2 separate regions of the Homo sapiens genome follow, and region 2 is linked to region 1. Evidence: fine-mapped expression QTL. Tissue or cell type: caudate. Region 1 holds a variant in brackets; the other region holds the start of a gene. All regions are shown on one strand. Distances are between the middles of the regions.

Region 1 (8,182 bases):
TGTCTCCCAAAGAGGCAGAGGCAGAAACATCACTCCTCTCTGTGTTCCCGAGCAAAGCACTCAACCTCTCTGAGCCTCAGGTTTCCATCTGTAAAATGCGCTCTGGCTAAGCTGTCTCTCCAGGCCATCCCAGACCTACTCATGTATGACTAATTGGAAGAAACCAGTTCTCCTTTACAGCAGGATGGAACATTTGCTATCAGGATGCTTCAGGGTATCAGAATAGAAGTTACCATTTATCGGCTACGTAAGTATCTACATGACAAACAATAGTATTAACAAATGAAATAAGGCACCTTGTTCATTTCATTTTCATAAAAACCATATGAGGGAAGCTATGTGTCTCAATTCAGATGCACTTATCTCCAATCTGCCAAATGCCATCCCGATAAACTCAGGGCAGCATCTCAGCTTTCAGAGACCACTGTGGATCCTGACACCGCCAACTGCTGAATTAAATATCCCACCCAGCTTCACACTCCATCAATGTTAACATCCAGATCTTAATAAGAAGGAGCAGGAGGATGGAGAAAATGAGGAGATGAAACTAGGAACTAGCTGGGGACCTTTCATCCCACCTGGGACCCTGGAGGGTCACCGCTGTCGCATGCATCAGCACTGCATGGAGTAAGGTCAGTAAGGCCAGGGCACAGCACGTCCTCCAGAACCCCAACAGAACAAGGGCCAGACCGAAGACCTGCAAGGTGGAAAATGACGTGAGGCTGGCATGACTTGTCCCCAGGGAGCCCCCGCCAGCTCCTCATGCACGTCTCTCCTTTGCCCACAGACTCACAGCCTTCTTCTTAGTCTAGGATCTTTCCCAGGGCCAACATCAGATTTGAGTCTCTTCCACCTCCGGGCTTCATTTCCAACACCTCTCAGACAGCACCTCAGATGGGGGTATCTCATTCCAGGTCATGCTATACCCTGGCCAGGGCATTCTCTTGGTCAGAGCCCTGAGCACACACACTGCAGCCCACGCTACGTGGCTCCTGCTTTCCTCCGGGAACCTGCCTGCGCCCTTTGCACCTGCAGATCCTCCTCTGTCCAGACCGCTGTGGGCACAGTGGAGCTGTGCCTTCCTCCCCTTCACAGACACCAGCTGCCCTAGACGGCGATGGATCTATGAAGCCCTTGTTCTCCTTGCTCCGAACATGATATGAAAAGATGCTTTGTGGTCGTCAGCTCTCCTCAGTAGGTTCAGTTCACACCCGGGCTCTCACCCCCTGACACTCTTTACTGGCCCTCGTCACTCTGTCATTGTGAGTGTCCTGGGAAGGGCTCCTCTTGTTCTCCTTGGCTCTTGTCCCTCTGACCTCAGCAAGACATCTTTCTGAGCCACACAGATGTCTCTCATTGCCACCCCATGTCTTTCCTACTTGAAAAAAACAGATTTAATTCCAGGACTCACCCACCACTTTCAGAGCCCTCAGATCACGTGAATCACAGAAATCAAGTGATGATCTTTGAAACTTTCTGAAACTGAGCTCCCCAAGTCTACAGGGGATCTAACCATGCCTGGCCTTCCCCACCAACACAGAGCACATCTCCCAAAGGCTTCCAACCAACCTGGGCCATCAACCAGGGTCCCCTGTTGCCCAACTCAGCAAGTGCTGCATCCTGGGAGATGAAGCCTCGCCCACCCCACAGTGTTAAGAGCTTGTGGTTCTCGGTTTATCACCCATCCTCTGGTGACTGCACACTGATCATTCACTCATCTGGGAACCACTGGCCACATTCTCCCACATTATCACCTTGACCAGGTTGTCTCAGGTAACCTTCGAGCCTTCCATCCAAATAGATGTTAAGTGCACGGGCTCCACGGTTGGAGGCCAGCTCTGCTGTATCCAACCTGTGACCTTGGGCAAGGCGTGGGTCCCCTCCAGGCCTGTTTTCTGATCTATAAAGAGGGTCACCTTGGTGTTTTCTTCACTGGGTTGTGGGAAAGATTAGAAGGATTAATATAGAGAAAGTGCTAAGGAACCTGGCTCAGTAAACATTAGGGGTATCACTTCTTATCGCACTGAGTGCAAAGGGACAGAGTCCACTCCATGGCAGCCTTCCCATTACTCCTGAGCTCTCAGGGACCAGTGCATAACAGTGTTTAATAAATGACCAAACAGCCTGGGCATTTTTCTCCTTCCTGCTCCACCTACAGAAGAAAGAACTCTTGGCAAACATCTGGATAACCTCTTTTTCCTGGGATGTCTGAAGTCACTCCCTAACCCAAGCCAACTGGCCAGCCTCAAGCTGTTCTGAGCTGCAGGTCAGGCACCAGATCTTATTCAGAGACACCATGTACCCCCACCCGCTCCCCCCAAGCAGTGCTTTGCTGCATCTGCTTTTCTCTTCAGTTAAAACACACAAGAGCAGAAAATACCTCCTGTCTTCTAATCCTTTGGTATCCCTAGTCTCTGCAGAAGCTTCCCAGACCCTTTTGGAAGATTCCAGAGGACAATCATCTACGGGCCTTTTCTGCATTTGGATTGTGAGGTCCTGGGGTTTCCTAAGAAAGGGAATACACCTGTTTCCAGGAATCCTCCTGGCTCTGGCACACTGAGGAAATTAAACACTGAAGGTGATCCAGGCTTTCCCAGAGGCTGGCTGGTGGCACTGGGGAGATGAGCAATTCCTGGTCAGCCCCTACAGGCTCTGTGGCCAGCTACGCCTGGACCCCTCTAGCAGCAATGCCTGCTGCATTCGAGGAAAGCCAAGTGCAGGAGACTGCGAACACAGCCAGTACCCATGGAAGCAGGGAGAGTGGCCCTAGTGCAACATAACTTGGCCACGTCGACCCTCATAGGGGTGGATGTGATCTCATCATCCACTCAGATGTCTGAGACTGTGCAGAAGCAGGGCCAGTGAAAGCAGAGGGCAGATCCAATGCTTCAATGGGGCCCTGCTGTGCAGATTGAGAGTCTGCCATGAATATGACTGAGGATGGCCAGGACATAGAACAGGGAGCAGTGTTCTGCCAAACAATGCCAATAGGCAGTGGCTGGTGCTGTGTGGAGTGATATTTTAGACGTTATATTTGCCAGGGCTGCAGCAACATGGAAGTCACATAAAGGGACTGAATTAGCCCTGGTCACTCAGGCGCCAGGGCACTACTTGTGTTCCAAATCAACCCTGCCACTACCTGCCTGAGCTCAGACAAACACTCTGGGCCTCCATCTCTTCATAAGTAAAACAAGAATGGTGATCTTCACTTCAGGCACTCACGGACAGGACTCAACAGGGCTCTGTGCATGCCAGATAGCAAGAGCACAAGGAACAGCAGCTCTTTTCCTGATACAACTAGAGAATAAAGGTGGAGCCTGAGACAGTGGTCCCAATTCCACTGGCAGCCTTCAGGCAAAAAGTCCATGATTTTACCTCAGCTATTCCTTCCGACCTTCCCAGGTTCCAACAATAGCATCATCTAAGGATAAAAAGACAATGATGTTCTTATAGAGGCACAGACCACTAATGAGGAAAAATAAGTTTAAAAATATTTAAGTTTGTCTTTTTTTTTAAATAATTGGTGTGATTATATGTTTCAAACAAAAGTTGCCACCTCTTGGATGTCTGAAAAGAAATCTGCCAAGCAAAGCAGACACGATGATTCTAAATCATTTGCAAAGTCTTTTATCCCTCCCCCCAGAATCCGCATATGTTGGGGATCAGGGATTAGATATAAAGGCAATTTAACTTTTTAAACCAGAAAAAAGCCTCACAAATCACAGTTCCATGCACATACCTATGAATTTGTCCAAAATATCTAGCATATGCAAATTCTTTCACTGAACACACTGCAATGCACCTTCATCATACTTAATTTCTGTTTAATTCTGTGTGATTTATCTACGGCCAAATTTCCATTTCTGTATCAATCAAAAGTAAATTAGTTGAATTTTCATTAAAGGTCATAATAAACTACAATATCATGTTAACTTATTTCCAAGAAGTGAAAGCTTCAACCTTTATTGGTAATTAAGATCTTTACAAACAAACAAGGGCTCTTTTATAACTTAGTGCATATATATTATGTATTTGTGTGTGTTTGAACATATAAATATGTATGTGTCATAAAATATCATTAAAAACTAAATCACATATCTCTGATAAGATTACATTGTAACCAAGAAACAAAAAATTGCCTCGATATAGTTCTATTTTATCCCTCAAAAAGAATGAGACTTGATTTTCTAGAGTTCGTCCCTTATGCATCTACGACAATCTTTGATACTAACAGGAAATATTTTCCCCTTGGCCCTCCTATCTAATGTACATAAAATCATTACTTTCAAATGCCATAATTACTGCCATAAAATGTCTAATGTCTCCCTCAGGAGTAATTAATTTCATTTCTGTACATCAGT[G/T]GCATTGGCAACTACATATTTTAGAAATTTACTGTTAATTTCTTATTTCCAGGCTCCCTCAAATGTTTCAAAGCCCTGGCCTCCCACTGTCTTCCTACAACCCTGCTCTGAATCCTGTCCCCTCCCTCCCCTGCACCTGGCATTGCATAGCCTGCCCAGAAGGCAGGTGTGGGTGGGAACGCCCCCTAAATGCTTCTGCAAGGCTTAGCTTCCTGCTGTGCTGTCTGTGTCTATTAGTAAAGGCAAAATGTCAAGGAAAGGATTCAATCAACCCCTTGTCTCTAAAACCAGGTATGTTCTTTTAGCTCATTCTAAAAACTCATTATAATGTGATCATTTGGTATTGTTTTGTTTCCCAGGAAAGGCAGTGAACAGGATACATGTCCAGATCTTTGGATATAATCTGTTGGAGAAAGGATCTGGGGCTGATGCATGGTTCTTACCCTACTGCCCAGCGCAAGCCCGGGCTGAGAATAACAGCAACACAGGATAAACCCCGGGAGAGACAGTGGGAGGGAGGAAAACAACTGCAGCCTGAAAGTCACCCTAGGAGAAAAATTCATAGGCAGAATTCTTGAGTGCTGAAAAAACAGGGGGGAGAGGGAGAAGGTAGGGGAGAAGAATAAACAAAGAGAGGAAAAGAGAGAGGGAGAGAGACTGACACAGAAGAAAATGAAAACAGGAAGACAATAAAGAAGAGATAGAGGAGAAAAAGTGAGAGAAGAGAAAGGGAACAGAAACGGGGATGGGACTCGGAGACGACGTGGGAGAGAGAGGAAGCTGGCGACATTGGGAAGGAAAGGACCCCACAGTCAAAGGCAGGACTCAACAACCCTGTCCTGGGGAAAGGCTGATGTGGAAGTGAGATGGACCCCGCCGCCCGCGCCCGCTCGCGGCTCTGTCCCTGCAGACAGGAGGGTGCGCCTCACCTGGGCTCTCTGGAGATGTGGAGCAAGAGGTGCTGGTGCAGCACAGCCTCCTCCCGGCCAAGAGCACTGCGCGTGGCTCTGAACTTGGCGCCGGAGCCCTGAGGGCGGCCAGATCCCGCCCCCAAGCCGCTCCCGCCTTCGGGGCGTGGTCTCGGCGTCGCCCACCCCCAGGGAAGCTCCAGCCTTCGGGGCGGGGCTTGCGGGTGGGCGGCCCCGGCAGGGGAGGGTGCCGCTGGCCAAAGAACTCACAACCCCGGGAGAAAACCCCCTTCTGACCCTCTGGGCTGCCCGGCCCTTCCCCGGCTCAGCTCCGCGGAGATGCCCCCAGCTGGCTTGGTCAGGGCCGGGCGCCATCGCCTGCGGGAGGGCGAGGGCGTTCTTTGGAGGCGGTGCCTGCTCTCGCCTACGCCCTCTGGTCCTGGGCGCCCGACCTCTCGCTCCTGGGCCCGCGGGGCCTCGGCGATGCGGGCGAGGGCTGCGCGCGGTGCCTGCGGCTCCAGTCTGCGCCGAGGACCCCCACGGCCTCCTGGCCCTCCTTCCCCCAGCAGCCTGGCGGCCGCTCGATCGGCACCTCCCCCCGCCGGAATCGCCCAGCTCCCCCCGGGAGCGCCCGCCGCCTCTGCTCCCCAGACCTCAGCTGTGACCACGCAACGCTCTGCCAGGAAGGCGGACTCCGCGACTCGGGCCATGGTGGAAAATGACAGTTAAAGTGCGTTAAAATTAAGAACTTATACTTTGATTAAAAAACAACAAACGGAGTGAAAAAGCAAGCCACACACTGAAAGAAGATACTTGCAGCAATTGATAAAGGATTAGTATCCAGGATATATACTTTTAATGAATTAGTGTGAAAGAGAGGAACACCCAAAGCAACGAATGGACACAGACATGAATAGGCACTTCAAAGAGGAACCACTAACGACCAAAATCATGTGAAAGGACGAAGTCTCTAGAGTAATTAGAAAATGCAAATTAAGACCACAAGGAGATGTTTAATCATTAGGCATAAATGTTAAAATATAATAATACCAACTGTCATGGAAGGCATGAAGCAAGGGAACCCTAATATGCTGGGGCGAAGTACACCCAATTTCATTTATTATAAAAGACCACTAATTTAAGATATTCTATTATACTAAATACAGCTCCAAAAGAGGGGGAAAAAACTGACAACCAACCAACTCAAATGCTTTTCATCACTTGTAATTTTTAAGTTATATAAAGAAAGATCTATTTTAGACTGTATTAATCCATTCTCACACTGCTATAAAGAATTGCCTGAGACTGGGTAATTTATAAAGGAAAGAGGTTTAATTGACTCACAGTTCAGCATGGATGCAGAGGCCTCGGGAAACTTACAATCATGGTGGAAGTGGAAGCAAAACAGGTCCTTCTTCACAGGGTGGCTGGAAGGAGAAGAATGAGAGAAGTGCAGAGTGAAGGGGGTAAAAGCCCCTCACAAACCCATTAGATTGCCTGAGAACTCACTCACTATCATGAGAACAGCACAGGGCAACCACCGCCATGATTCAATCACCTCCCAGTAAGTCCCTCCCCCTACATATGGGCATTACAATAAGGACTATAATTCAAGATGAGATTTGGGTGGGGAAACAGAGGCAGGCCATATTATTCCACCCCTGGTCCTTCTCAAATCTCATGTCCTCATATTTCAAAACACAATCATGCCTTTCGAACAGTCTGCCAACGTCTTAACTAATTCCATCATTAACCCAAAAGTCCAAGTTCAAAGTCTCATCTGAGACAAGGCAAGTCCTTTCCACCCATGAACCTGTAAAATCAAAAGAAAGTTATTTCCTAGATATAATGCAAGTACAGGCATTGTGTAAATACACCCATTCCAAATGGGAGAAATTGACCAAAACAAAGGGACTACAGGCCCCATGCAAGTTTGAAACCCAATAGGGCAGTCATTAAACCTTAAAGTTCCAAAATGACCTCCTTTGACTCCATGTCTCACACCCAGGTCATGCTGGTGCAAGATGTGGACTCCCACGGCCTTGGGCAGCTCTGGCCCTGTGACTTTACAGGGTACAGACCCCCTCCCAGCTGCTTTCTTGGGCTGCCTTTGAGTGCCTGTGGCTTTTCCAGGCACAAGGTGCAAGTTGTCGGTGGATCTACCATTCTTGGATTTGAAGGGCAGTTGTCCTCTTCTCACAGCTCCACTAGGCAGTGCCCAAGTGGGGACTCTGTGTGGGAGCTCCAGCCCCACATTTCCCTTCTGCACTGCCCTAACAGAGGTTCTCCATCAGGGGCCTGCCCTTGCAGCAACTTCTGCCTGGTCATCTAGGTGTTTCCACACATCCTCGGAAATCTAGGCAGAGATTTCCCAACCTCAATTCTTTTTTTTTTTTTCTTTCCTGACATGGAGTCCCACTCTGTTGCCCAGGCTGGAGTGCAGTGGCATGATCTCGGCTCACTGTGACCTCCACCTCCTGGGTTTAAGTGATTCTCCACTTCAGCCTCCCAGGTAGCTGGGATTACAGGCACCTGCCACCATGCCAGGCTAATTTTTGTATTTTTAGTACAGACAGAGTTTCACCATGTTGGCCAGGCTGGTCTTGAATTCCTGGCCTCAGGAGATCCGCTGGCCTTGGCCTCCCAAAGTGCTGGGATTACTGGCGTGAGCCACCACACCTGGCCCCAAACCTCAATTCTTGACTTCTGTGCACCCACAGGCCCAACACCATGTGCAAGCTTCCAAGGCTTGGGGCTTGAACCCTCTGAAACAATGGCCCAAGTTGTACCTTGGCCCCTTTTAGCCACGGCAGGAGCTGAAGCAACTGAGACGCAGGGCACTATGTTCCAAGGCTGCATAGAGGAGATGAGGGCCAATGAGCCTGGCCCACGAAACCATTTTTACCTCCTAGG
Region 2 (8,182 bases), 35 kb before region 1:
TTGTGGTCCATCTGTGCAATGGAAGGCTACTCAGCAAACAAAATAAATGAACTATTGGTACACTCAACAATATGGGTGAATCCCACAATCATTATGCTGGGCAAAAGAAAACAGATAAAAAAAGGGTATCATTTCTTTTATAGCAAATTCTAGAAGCTACAAGCTAATCTATAGTGTTGGCAGCAAGTAAATCCATGTTTGTCTGGATATGGGAATGCAGAGGGGACTGGGGAGCAAAGGGGCACCAGGAAAACTTGAGGGCGACAGCAATATATGTTGCCCAGGTGGCGGTGAGAATTTCGGGGGGGTATGCATGTGTCAAAACTGACTAAATGATACACTTCAAATAGGTTCATTATATGTTAATTATACATCAATTAAGTAGTGAAAAAAGGACGTACTTATTAGATAATTTAAAAGGTACTGAAAAAATACAATACAGGAAACAAACAAGTGTATATGCCCTTTGACTCAGCAAGCCCAAGTTTGGGAATTTATCCACAAACAAAAAAGCACCTTAGGCCCTTAAGAACGCGTTTTCAAAAACATTTATCGCAATATCGCTGAAACAATATTGAAGTAAAAACAGAAAAAGCTTAAAATATGCCTCACAAAGGGTCAGTAAATCATCAAGAACTACTACAGGATGAGTATCCATTATCTGAAAGTTTTGGAGAAAGAAGTGTTTTAGATTTCAGATTCTTTTTGGATTTTGGAATATCTGTATGTACATAATGAGATATCCTGGGAGTGGGACTCTAGTCTAAACACAGTATTTATGCCTCATGTATGCCTTATACGCATAGCCTAAAGGTAACTATATCAATATTTTAAATAATTTTTTGCATGAAACAAAGTTGGTGTTAAGTACTTATGTGTGAAATTTTTCACTTGTGGTGTTGTGTCGGTGCTCAAAAAGTTTCAGGTTTTGGAGCATTTCAGATTTCAGATTTTTAGATTAGGGATCCCCAGACTACATGTAGCCATTAAAAGGATGAGTTTAATGAGTATACTTCAACTGGGAAGGATGTTTGTGTTGTATGTTTAAGTGAGTAAAACAAAATGCAAATTATCATCTATGCTAATAAACGGCTGACAATAGGATGGACAAATGGATGGGGTGCCCATAGATGTGTGGATGGATCTCTCCTATATGTGCACCTCCCTGCGTGTACACAGACACAGGTGACAATGGCTAGACATTCAATGCTGATTATTTGTTACTAAAGGAGGCTGGATTTTAAAAGCTTTGGAAAAGGTTTGTTTGCACATTTCTACAAAAATGAGTATGTTTTACTCCTCTGATTTAAGAAAAAAGTAAAATGAAAATACATAAAATGAATAAAAAGTCAAGGTTCAATTTGCTTTGAAGTGCATTTAAAAATGTGTTGGTTTGCAGGGGAGAGGAGGCTTGCAGGGTAGAAGAGGCTAGTGAGGCGGAGCTGAGATGAGAAAGGGGTAATAAAATGTCTGTGGTAGAATCTAGGGAGGCAGCCATTAAACTAAGGTGGCTCTAACGCCCTGATTTCCTACAAGAGCAAATTGAAATCTAACTCAGACTCATTTACTGTAAGCAGCTAATTTAAAAGAAACCGAAGCTTAAGTCCAGCCAACCACTGATGGCCAACTGGACATCAGTTGCATGGTCTCGAACTTTCCACTAGGATGTCCCAAATCATGCAAGGGCCGAAACGCTAAGCAACCAAAGCATCTGTAATATTTATTCCACTTCTGCCTTCACCCTGTGGAAGCCTCCCCTTGTGCTCCCTTGCAGAGCCCCAAACTGCCTCTTGTGGGGAGCTACCAGATTCATGAATCGCTATCTGCTCGGATAAGTTCTTTAAAATGTGAACATGTCAAAGCATTTCTTTAAATGATGGCATATAGATATTTGCTGTACCACTTGAACATTTCCATTATAAAACATCGAGGGGAAAACTAACATAAAACAATAGACAGACGAGGGCTTTGGCCACTGAAAAGACAACATCTGTGATGCAATAGGCAAGACGCTCCTTCCTGTACTGCCCAGCTCCGCTTGCTCCCTGACCATCCCTGCAGCAGCCCTGATGTGTCATTGTCCCCCTCTTAACCTGCGCTGCAGGTGCTGCAGGGCTGGGCTCTGGAGCCTGGGTCTGGTCATTTCTCCTTAGATATGTAGAGGCCCAGGAAAGGTTTGGAGCCTAAGAAGCCCTAGGACTCCAGGTCTCCAGGGCAGCCCCAGCCTCTTGGAATGACTTTCCCTAATACCACAGGGGTGTTCTAATCCCAGGCAGACCCAAGCTGCCCCTCACCAACTCCTACGTCCTCAACTTCCTTTCATAACTTCTAGGATGGAAACACCTAATCCTCCAGCAATACTGAGGCTTTTCTCCTTATTCTGTTTTCCCTTTTGAAGAAGCCAAGGCTCAGAGCAGTCGAGTCACCTAATCATGGTCTCATGTCGCCTGATCAAGGTCTCATGTCACCTTATCAAGATCTCACCCACTCACCTATTCAGTTCTCACCAGTTCAGTTCAGGATGGCTTCTAAGCTACCCTGCACAGCTCTGCCCACAGGACATTTGTATAAGTGAGGGGGTGCAGGGCCTTCCAGCCCCCTCCAACTCCAAAACTCAGCCCCCAAGATCAAGTGGACTCTCTGAACCCACCCTGGCCCTACAGTTGTCAGGGTCTGGATGGGAAGATGTAGAGCTCTCGGCTTTCACTCTGGGGACTTACCCAGAACATATTCTCCTCATGAGCTAAGGAGGCTGGCTGCCATCTTCCTACATCCCCCCACGGCCTGGGGGCAAGGACACCCTGGCCCCCTGGAGTCTGGAGAACTCTGAGGACAGAACTTGCTCTTCCACCTGCTTGGGCCTTACCCACAGGAGAAGCACTGCTTCTCTACCCATGCCCCATCCAACTCAGGCACCCCAGGGACTTGCAACAGTCTGATTTTTTCTCACGTCCTTCTTAAGGCTCTGGGCTAGCCACACAAATCAAATCCCAGTGATAGGTCCAGACAATCCTATCCTGAAACTACATCTTAGTAAGACTCCAGGGAATCCTTTCCCCAAAGACAGTCTTACTCCTGTTCTCCCCCAAGCCCTTTCTGGGCCAGAAGCTTTGCCTGGACTCAAGCAATGGCAGACAAGTGCCCTCTGAGGACACGGAAGTGCATGCTCAGAACTGTGATTCTCCAAGTGGAGGCAGAGGAGAAGGCCCAGGCTTCCCAGCAGGGCTAAGGATATGCAAGGAGTGCATTCATCCGGAGGTGTTGGCAGCATCCCAGCCCCACCCCATTCTCATCGTAAATCAGGCTCACTTCCATTGGCTGCATACGGTGGAGTGATGTGACCATATGTCACTTGAGCATTACACAAATCCTAATGAGCTAAAAATATGTTTGTTTTAGCTAATTGACCTCTTTGGCCTTCATAAAGCAGTTGGTAAACATCCTCAGATAATGATTTCCAAAGAGCAGATTGTGGGTCTCAGCTGTGTAGAGAAAGCCCACGTCCCTGAGACCACCTTCTCCAGCTGCCTACTGAGGCACACAGGGGCGCCTGCCTGCTGCCCGCTCAGCCAAGGCGGTGTTGCTGGAGCCAGCTTGGGACAGCTCTCCCAACGCTCTGCCCTGGCCTTGCGACCACTCTCTGGGCCGTAGTTGTCTGTCTGTTAAGTGAGGAAAGTGCCCATCTCCAGAGGCATTCAGCGGCAAAGCAGGGCTTCCAGGTTCCGACCCCATAGCAGGACTTCTTGGATTTCTACAGCCAGTCAGTTGCAAGCAGCACCCACATTATTTCTATAAGAAGTGGCAGGAGCTGGGATCTGAAGAGTTCAGCAGTCTACCTTTCCCTGTTTCTTGTGCTTTATGCAGTCAGGAGGAATGATCTGGATTCCATGTGAAGCCTGGGACCACGGAGACCCAAGACTTCCTGCTTGATTCTCCCTGCGAACTGCAGGCTGTGGGCTGAGCCTTCAAGAAGCAGGAGTCCCCTCTAGCCATTAACTCTCAGAGCTAACCTCATTTGAATGGGAACACTAGTCCTGTGATGTCTGGAAGGTGGGCGCCTCTACACTCCACACCCTACATGGTGGTCCAGACACATCATTCCCAGCATTAGAAAGCTGTAGGGGGACCCGTTCTGTTCCCTGGAGGCATTAAAGGGACATAGAAATAAATCTCAAGCTCTGAGGCTGATGCCAGCCTCAGACTCAGCCTCTGCACTGTATGGGCCAATTGTAGCCCCAAGGACTTCTTCTTGCTGCACCCCCTATCTGTCCACACCTAAAACGATGGGCTTCTATTAGTTACAGAACTCTCTGGCCTGTTTTGTTTTGCTTTGCTTTGTTTTGTTTTGTTTTTTTGTTTTTTTGTTTTTTAGCTATGAAACAGAGGTAATATCTAATACAGATAACTTACCAGTAATGAGTGCTTCCTACTTACTGGGTACTGGGAAGAAGTGCTTTACACATATTTTCTCATTTAATCTACACAATAAGTAATTAAGACATTTCCCTGAGGCCACGGGAGAGACAGTGGCAGAACAGTTCTCCAAGGAGGACTTGCAAGTTAATAACTGGACTTTGCAAGGCTCTGGTGGAAACTGTCAGCTTGTAAAGGATGGAGCACAGTGTCTGGCATGTAGCAGGAACTAAAATAATGGCAGTGATTAATGTTATGATATGCAGACACAACACAGCAAGATAAGATGCAATGTACCTTCTGGGTCAAACCACCCTGGCCACTCCTCCCCGATACCCAGGGTTGATGTGCTTGAATTAGACAGGATTAAAGGCTTACTGGAGCTGGAAGCCTTGCCCCAACTCAGGAGTTTAGCCCCAGACCTTCTGTCCACCAGCTGAGAAGGACAAGGGCGGAAGGCAGCTGCACAGAGCAGGGCCACGGCCTTGCACACAGTCCAGGGAGCTTTTGTGCAGGAGCCAGGCCTCCCCCTGGGTCCCCATGATGAGAGAATGGGTTCTGCTCATGTCCGTGCTGCTCTGTGGCCTGGCTGGCCCCACACACCTGTTCCAGCCAAGCCTGGTGCTGGACATGGCCAAGGTCCTCTTGGATAACTACTGCTTCCCGGAGAACCTGCTGGGCATGCAGGAAGCCATCCAGCAGGCCATCAAGAGCCATGAGATTCTGAGCATCTCAGACCCGCAGACGCTGGCCAGTGTGCTGACAGCCGGGGTGCAGAGCTCCCTGAACGATCCTCGCCTGGTCATCTCCTATGAGCCCAGCACCCCCGAGCCTCCCCCACAAGTCCCAGCACTCACCAGCCTCTCAGAAGAGGAACTGCTTGCCTGGCTGCAAAGGGGCCTCCGCCATGAGGTTCTGGAGGGTAATGTGGGCTACCTGCGGGTGGACAGCGTCCCGGGCCAGGAGGTGCTGAGCATGATGGGGGAGTTCCTGGTGGCCCACGTGTGGGGGAATCTCATGGGCACCTCCGCCTTAGTGCTGGATCTCCGGCACTGCACAGGAGGCCAGGTCTCTGGCATTCCCTACATCATCTCCTACCTGCACCCAGGGAACACCATCCTGCACGTGGACACTATCTACAACCGCCCCTCCAACACCACCACGGAGATCTGGACCTTGCCCCAGGTCCTGGGAGAAAGGTACGGTGCCGACAAGGATGTGGTGGTCCTCACCAGCAGCCAGACCAGGGGCGTGGCCGAGGACATCGCGCACATCCTTAAGCAGATGCGCAGGGCCATCGTGGTGGGCGAGCGGACTGGGGGAGGGGCCCTGGACCTCCGGAAGCTGAGGATAGGCGAGTCTGACTTCTTCTTCACGGTGCCCGTGTCCAGGTCCCTGGGGCCCCTTGGTGGAGGCAGCCAGACGTGGGAGGGCAGCGGGGTGCTGCCCTGTGTGGGGACTCCGGCCGAGCAGGCCCTGGAGAAAGCCCTGGCCATCCTCACTCTGCGCAGCGCCCTTCCAGGGGTAGTCCACTGCCTCCAGGAGGTCCTGAAGGACTACTACACGCTGGTGGACCGTGTGCCCACCCTGCTGCAGCACTTGGCCAGCATGGACTTCTCCACGGTGGTCTCCGAGGAAGATCTGGTCACCAAGCTCAATGCCGGCCTGCAGGCTGCGTCTGAGGATCCCAGGCTCCTGGTGCGAGCCATCGGGCCCACAGAAACTCCTTCTTGGCCCGCGCCCGACGCTGCAGCCGAAGACTCACCAGGGGTGGCCCCAGAGTTGCCTGAGGACGAGGCTATCCGGCAAGCACTGGTGGACTCTGTGTTCCAGGTGTCGGTGCTGCCAGGCAATGTGGGCTACCTGCGCTTCGATAGTTTTGCTGACGCCTCCGTCCTGGGTGTGTTGGCCCCATATGTCCTGCGCCAGGTGTGGGAGCCGCTACAGGACACGGAGCACCTCATCATGGACCTGCGCCACAACCCTGGAGGGCCATCCTCTGCTGTGCCCCTGCTCCTGTCCTACTTCCAGGGCCCTGAGGCCGGCCCCGTGCACCTCTTCACCACCTATGATCGCCGCACCAACATCACGCAGGAGCACTTCAGCCACATGGAGCTCCCGGGCCCACGCTACAGCACCCAACGTGGGGTGTATCTGCTCACCAGCCACCGCACCGCCACGGCCGCGGAGGAGTTCGCCTTCCTTATGCAGTCGCTGGGCTGGGCCACACTGGTAGGTGAGATCACCGCGGGCAACCTGCTGCACACCCGCACGGTGCCGCTGCTGGACACACCCGAAGGCAGCCTCGCGCTCACCGTGCCGGTCCTCACCTTCATCGACAATCACGGCGAGGCCTGGCTGGGTGGTGGAGTGGTGCCCGATGCCATCGTGCTGGCCGAGGAGGCCCTGGACAAAGCCCAGGAAGTGCTGGAGTTCCACCAAAGCCTGGGGGCCTTGGTGGAGGGCACAGGGCACCTGCTGGAGGCCCACTATGCTCGGCCAGAGGTCGTGGGGCAGACCAGTGCCCTCCTGCGGGCCAAGCTGGCCCAGGGCGCCTACCGCACAGCTGTGGACTTGGAGTCTCTGGCCTCTCAGCTCACAGCAGACCTCCAGGAGGTGTCTGGGGACCACCGCTTGCTAGTGTTCCACAGCCCTGGCGAGCTGGTGGTAGAGGAAGCACCCCCACCACCCCCTGCTGTCCCCTCTCCAGAGGAGCTCACCTACCTTATTGAGGCCCTGTTCAAGACAGAGGTGCTGCCCGGCCAGCTGGGCTACCTGCGTTTTGACGCCATGGCTGAACTGGAGACAGTGAAGGCCGTGGGGCCACAGCTGGTGCGGCTGGTATGGCAACAGCTGGTGGACACGGCTGCGCTGGTGATCGACCTGCGCTACAACCCTGGCAGCTACTCCACGGCCATCCCGCTGCTCTGCTCCTACTTCTTTGAGGCAGAGCCCCGCCAGCACCTGTATTCTGTCTTTGACAGGGCCACCTCAAAAGTCACGGAGGTGTGGACCTTGCCCCAGGTCGCCGGCCAGCGCTACGGCTCACACAAGGACCTCTACATCCTGATGAGCCACACCAGTGGCTCTGCGGCCGAGGCCTTTGCACACACCATGCAGGACCTGCAGCGGGCCACGGTCATTGGGGAGCCCACGGCCGGAGGCGCACTCTCTGTGGGCATCTACCAGGTGGGCAGCAGCCCCTTATATGCATCCATGCCCACCCAGATGGCCATGAGTGCCACCACAGGCAAGGCCTGGGACCTGGCTGGTGTGGAGCCCGACATCACTGTGCCCATGAGCGAAGCCCTTTCCATAGCCCAGGACATAGTGGCTCTGCGTGCCAAGGTGCCCACGGTGCTGCAGACGGCCGGGAAGCTGGTGGCTGATAACTATGCCTCTGCCGAGCTGGGGGCCAAGATGGCCACCAAACTGAGCGGTCTGCAGAGCCGCTACTCCAGGGTGACCTCAGAAGTGGCCCTAGCCGAGATCCTGGGGGCTGACCTGCAGATGCTCTCCGGAGACCCACACCTGAAGGCAGCCCATATCCCTGAGAATGCCAAGGACCGCATTCCTGGAATTGTGCCCATGCAGGTGAGACCCAAGAGAGACCTGGCTGAACCCAGTCCCGGGAGTGAGTTGACCCATTGTCCGCACATGCAGGGCTCTGTGCACAGTGCGTGACAATGGCTTTTAGATTTGTTCTCACGTTTAAGTTTTGACCGGTCAAGTCCTTTCCTCTTTCTCAACCTGTTCCATCCACTCTCTG

Alleles and levels. Alleles are on the strand shown, and positions count from the first base shown. SD is a standard deviation of normalised expression in the study named.
As copies of G replace T in region 1, the expression in caudate of the gene that starts at base 4,832 in region 2 goes down (small effect, 0.35 SD a copy in GTEx).

The links. PIP is the estimated chance that this variant, and not a neighbour inherited with it, causes the effect.
Region 2: RBP3 starts here. The variant in region 1 is fine-mapped to the expression of RBP3 in caudate (GTEx, PIP 0.98).

Annotation. Positions count from the first base shown.
Region 1 is chr10:47,378,930-47,387,111 of GRCh38, forward strand. ZNF488 (zinc finger protein 488) reads right to left here and starts at 5,364. Exons shown (of 2, transcript NM_153034.4): 1 at 5,291-5,364. RefSeq lists an enhancer at 5,271-5,770 and a silencer at 5,333-5,812. The variant G/T (reference allele first, on the strand shown) is at 4,362.
Region 2 is chr10:47,343,532-47,351,713 of GRCh38, forward strand. RBP3 (retinol binding protein 3) reads left to right here and starts at 4,832. Exons shown (of 4, transcript NM_002900.3): 1 at 4,832-8,007. The coding sequence starts at 4,954.